Linked DNA regions of Homo sapiens: region 2 is linked to region 1. The links come from fine-mapping of genetic effects on gene expression. Tissue or cell type: fibroblasts. Region 1 holds a variant in brackets; the other region holds the start of a gene. All regions are shown on one strand. Distances are between the middles of the regions.

Region 1 (2,683 bases):
ATGGGGTGTCATCACAAATGCTATATGTGAATGGGAAGGCACTGTGGACATTTCCTCTGCTCATGTGCATGCTCCCTCATCCCATTAGACTTTCTTACAAAACACAAGTTTCATGAAATTATTCAGAATTGCAAGATAGTGGTAGCAGTGCGTTAAACCAAATGTGGGACCATTTGACTGTGTAAGTCTCTGCCCATGAAACCAGCCCTGATCCATTTTCCATCACAATGTAGTTAATAAAGAGCACACTGAGCACAGAGGATGGGCACATGCATTCTTGCTGAATGATGAATGACTGAACAATTCAGAACTGTTGACCAGTGAACTGAGCTGCAGCCATAAGTGACCTCATGGCCCAGAAAGAGGAAGACAAAGACAAAGGTAGAGAGCTTCAGTTTCCAATACTGTTCCTGTTCCTCAGCCTACTTGTACCTCCTAGCCTTGAGTTCAGTGAAATATTATTATTCCCTATAACAAATCTCCCCTGATTTATCTGTGTAGGTTTTTATAGTGTCTTGACAAGAAATTCATTTTGTGCCGTGGCCCGCCCATGACCCTCTCCAGACATATCCAGCTATACGATCTTCTGAATGTGTCATGATTTTCACATTGGCATGCCTTTGACCACAGAGCCATTGTTCTCTCAATGACTATGTCCTCTTCTTTTCTTTTTCTTTTCTTTTCTTTTTTCTTTTCGTTTCTCTCTTTTTTTTTTTTTTTTGAGATGGAGTTTTGCTCTTGTCACCCAGGCTGGAGTGCAATGGTGTGATCTTGGCTAACTGCAACCTCAGCCTCATGAGTTCAATCACTTCTCCTGTCTCAGCCTCCCGAGTAGCTGGGATTACAGGCACCCGCGACCAGGCTCTCTTTTCTAATAAGCCAACTCCTCTTCTTTCTCCAAGATCAGCTCTCCTGTGATACGTTCTTCAGTTCTCACTTGAGATAGTCACTCAGCTGTCATTGTATTGAGGTAGATGCTGACATTTCTGTCCCTGAGATCTCCTTGGGGATGGGGTAAAGCAGTGTTCTCTTTTGTATTTCTCTTGCCCAGTACCTCATCTAGTGCTTGATACTTAGATTCTCACTGTTGCATAAGACTTCATTGTTGATTTACCAAATTACCATATATGGCTACACCTGGGGGACATTATGTTAGGACTATTTTCAGAATACCTCAGTTGCAAGTTGTTCACCACTTCTCAGTCCTTATTTCTTGTGTTCAAAGATGAGTTTTCATTGAAAACTCTTCTAGCTGATTATATGAATTATTTAAGTTAGTGGTAGTAGAAAGAAGTGTGGACAATAAAAAGAGGCATATTGAAATGGGCTTGGATTAAAGCCATCCAAAGACTATCTGTGCTCAGTTGTGCCTAAAGTACTTTTGGAACAATCTATTTATGAAATGATAGACCACAGATCACTGTTGATGACACCCACATTCATTCTTGACAACTATGACTCATTCGTACGTCGTGCACATACACAGGAGCAGGAATAGATCACAGATCACTGACTGTGACACCCACATTCATTCTTGAAAAGTATGACTCAGCTGTAAGTC[G/A]TGCACATACACAGGAGCAGGAATCTGAGGGGAAGAAATATCTATCCAGTGCAGATGCCATTCACAGAGATCCCCAGACAGTCTCCTAAGCAGCCTGAATTGTTCTTCTTGTCTGGTCTGCATCCCACTGGGAAACAGTCCAAGGTGTTAAATATTTTCACTGAATATGGTGGTCTCCCTCCTTTGGCATGATGTTTTGGAGGGGTCTCTTCCAGTGGGACATTGTTTATCATTTATTTCTCATCCAAACTGAGAATTATAGAACGAATCCTGCTTTCATTCAGATTACAGATTTGTTAAAACAATATCTGAAATATAGCAGATATTGTCATGATTTTGCAAAAACAAAACAAAAACGAAAAAGTCTTACAAGATAGAAATGCTTAATGAATACATAACACATTTATCAGGACTTGTTTTCTCATTGTTATCAAGAGTTGGCCATGAGGAATAGGATATTAGGTCATATGCAGACTAGGAAGTGGAAAAGGCCAAAAGATAAAAATTCTACAAGAGACAGAGAAAGCGCTTACATGTCTATCTTTTTTGCTTGCTTCACACATGAAGTGATTCCCTGCTGAATGGAAAGACAGACAGGTGAGACTGGCTTTCATTCAAATGATGGGTGGAAGTGCCCCTGCCATGTTTGAAGGTTTAAAAAGTTCTAATATTCAGATGAAGAGGGAAGAGAGAATAACGTTCTCCTCCCTTCATATGCAATGCAGTCGGAAAATCAGTCCCATTCTTTTATTTATGTGGTCAAAATGCAAGTATAAAAATTATTACCCAGATTGCAAGTCAATCTAATCACTGCATCATCTTTCATTAGCTCTGGACATTTAGCTCTCTGTGATACAACCGTTTCTCTGACCGAATAAGTCTGTGTCAAATAATTGTTAAAATTTCCACTGATCCCCAAAAGTCTGAGCACCAGCTGGATGTAGATGTTTGCCAACACCAGCAGTCATGTGGAACTCACTAATTGGGTATATGCATCCTGGGCATACAGACATGCCATGCCAAAGGGGTGGCCGTACCTCACGATGCCTTTGGAACATGCAATAACTTCATTGCTTTACAAAAAAAAAAAGGAAAAGACAAGACTTGGCTGAAAGCAAGATT
Region 2 (2,683 bases), 360 kb before region 1:
GGGAAACTCTTCTGCCCATAGCAGTCCAGGGCAGAGCACTGTGGCAGACAGAAGCAGCGCTACGCCGCATCGCCTTTCAGCGTGCAGGCCCAGGAATGAGCGAGGCAGTGGGCGGGGAAGACAGGCACGGGGAATCTGGGGACAGATAAAGGAAACTCGTGATGGGGCGAGGCTGGGCTGAAGAGAAACAGATTGGGGTAGAGCTGCAAAGGGAGGGGTCCACTGGAAGGCGAGGGGGGAGGCCGGGAAGAGAGAGGGTGGGAAGGCAGTGTGAGATGGGAGGGCAGTGTGAGAAGAAAAGCAGGCTGGGGAAGAGGGATTGGAATGCAGAAGGAACTTGGGGAAGGAGGAAGTCCTGCAGGCGGGAGGGAAAGAAGAGAGGGAAAATGGGGATGCAGTGGAGGCGGGGGGCAGGCCGCGAGAGGGAGAGGATCCCGGGAGCAGACGAAGAAGTGGAGCAGCTAAAGTCTGCGTCAGAAGAGGTTGGGGACTGCGAGAGGAGAGGCTGGGGCCTGCAGGGGAGCGCAGCAGCTTTTAGCATCGATCCAAACTCTAAAGACTCGTGGCCTTTGCCTGACCTCGAGGGTCGGGAATAGACGCCTGTCTTTGTGGAGAGCGATACCCAACCGAGAAAATGGGGCTGTTCCGAGCTGGGCCCTGCGCCTGGCCCAGGGCGAGGCTTCTCTGGCTCCGGGCTGGCCCCTGAGGGGCGCAAACGGCAGGCCTGGCGGTTGGGGCCGAGGAGGGAGGGTACCACCGCCCCGAGGCAGCACGCAGCCTGCAGCAGAGGCGCCTGCTCCAAGCTGTCTCTTGGGGGCGCCGCCGCCGCTTCCCTCCTCCGGGGCCGCTCGCTCCCAGGAAAGTGGAGGCGGCTGGCGAGGACCGAGAGCCGGGGCCGCGCTGCGGAGGGACCACACCTCCGGGAGTTCGAGGGGGACCCTGGCGCGGCGGGCCAGCCTTTGCTCCCCGGCCACGGGCCGGCAGCGCCCGCCTTCCCCCGGTCAGCGCTTGCGGCCCGCGCCGCGCGCACCGCCCGGCAACCCCGCGCGCGTCCCGCGGGGGCGCTGCGTCTTCCTGCCACACCGGCGCACCGCGGCCCCTCTCCCCCACACCTCCGGCCCGCACCACCCGGCTCTCCTCCCACCCTCCCCACCCCTCCTCTGCCCTCCCTCCCCATTCCTCCCCTCCCGGCGAGGGGCGGGAGGGGGCGTGGCGGGGCCGGGGTTTGTGTGGCTGGGACCCGGCTCCTCGCACTCCGAGTCCGCCCGAGGAGCCGGGCCCCGGCCGCTGTCCAGCCGCTCCGTGCCCCGCGCGTCCTGCGCCGCCGCCACCGCCTCCTGGGGAGACGCAGCCACTTGCCCGCCATGGATACTCCCAGGGTCCTGCTCTCGGCCGTCTTCCTCATCAGTTTTCTGTGGGATTTGCCCGGTTTCCAGCAGGCTTCCATCTCATCCTCCTCGTCGTCCGCCGAGCTGGGTTCCACCAAGGGCATGCGAAGCCGCAAGGAAGGCAAGATGCAGCGGGCGCCGCGCGACAGTGACGCGGGCCGGGAGGGCCAGGAACCACAGCCGCGGCCTCAGGACGAACCCCGGGCTCAGCAGCCCCGGGCGCAGGAGCCGCCAGGCAGGGGTCCGCGCGTGGTGCCCCACGAGTACATGCTGTCAATCTACAGGACTTACTCCATCGCTGAGAAGCTGGGCATCAATGCCAGCTTTTTCCAGTCTTCCAAGTCGGCTAATACGATCACCAGCTTTGTAGACAGGGGACTAGGTAAGTGGCAAAGAAAACGCTCGACTCCCCTCCCGCTGGAGCTCGGCAGCCAGGGAGCTGTTCCCGCTGGAGGCTACATTTGTGAATTCCCTTCCTGCTCTGGACACTTCCTTTTTACTTTTCTTAAATTGTTTTTCTCAAGCTCGAGTAAGTTTCTGAATGTGGCTGCGGATTCTATTCCAGTCTCTAAACCTCCCTTCCTTTCCCCCCCTTTCTTTCTCTCTCCCTTCTTTCCTTCTTCCTCTTTTGCAGAAGGCAGCGTGGTTGCCGCTTGTTGGTGGCTGGTGGGGGAAACGTGGAGGACGGGAGGCAGCAGGCGGATGAACCCGGCTGGAGAGGGGTCGGGATGGGGACTGATGGAATCGGTGTCTCGGGATACTGGGTTCGCAGTCCAAGGCCTGAGCTGCTGGGGCAGATCTAGGGCATGAGACAGCCTTGGAAAGCCCTGGGCAAAGCCGGCACTAGGGAGTCCCACAGTCTGAGGAACTAGTCCGCGAGCGGCGTCGGGCAGCCCCCTGGTCCTGGCGCCGCGCGGGTTTTCCGTTGGTCCCTGCGCTGGGTGGGATGGTCAGCCGGGCTGGAGCCCTGCGCCCTCCGGCTTTTTTGCTCCAGCGTGGTGCTCCCGGCTGCTCCGAGGCCTCAACACGAGTGGTTTCTGCAGATGCGGCGGCAGCAGTTGGGCGGGCCGGGACAGGGACGGCTAAGTTCGGAGGTTGTGGGTACTTAATACACAAAGGTACATGGGTATGCCCATCCACCTTTCTCAGCCAGGCGACGTTCCTCTCTCTACGCTATTCCTGAGGGCTGGTGGGGGTCTGGGAAATCCCTGGTACCCTCTGTGGGAACGCCTGCATGTGTGGGTGTCTGCGGAAACCCTTGCGGCCCCTTCTTGCCACCGGCGTTGATCTGCAGC

Alleles and levels. Positions count from the first base shown, and alleles are read on the strand shown. Sizes are in standard deviations (SD) of each study's normalised expression.
In carriers of allele A in region 1, the expression in fibroblasts of the gene that starts at base 1,251 in region 2 tends to be higher than with G alone (moderate effect, 0.45 SD a copy in GTEx).

What was found. PIP is the estimated chance that this variant, and not a neighbour inherited with it, causes the effect.
Region 2: it holds the start of GDF6, and the variant in region 1 is fine-mapped to the expression of GDF6 in fibroblasts (GTEx, PIP 0.98).

Annotation. Positions count from the first base shown.
Region 1 is chr8:95,800,877-95,803,559 of GRCh38, reverse strand. All of the region lies in intron 3 of CFAP418-AS1 (CFAP418 antisense RNA 1), which reads right to left. Among named protein-coding and RNA genes, the nearest start is that of GDF6, 360 kb to the left of the region's middle. The variant G/A (reference allele first, on the strand shown) is at 1,562.
Region 2 is chr8:96,159,374-96,162,056 of GRCh38, reverse strand. It overlaps GDF6 (growth differentiation factor 6), which reads left to right and starts at 1,251. Exons shown (of 2, transcript NM_001001557.4): 1 at 1,251-1,770. The coding sequence starts at 1,365.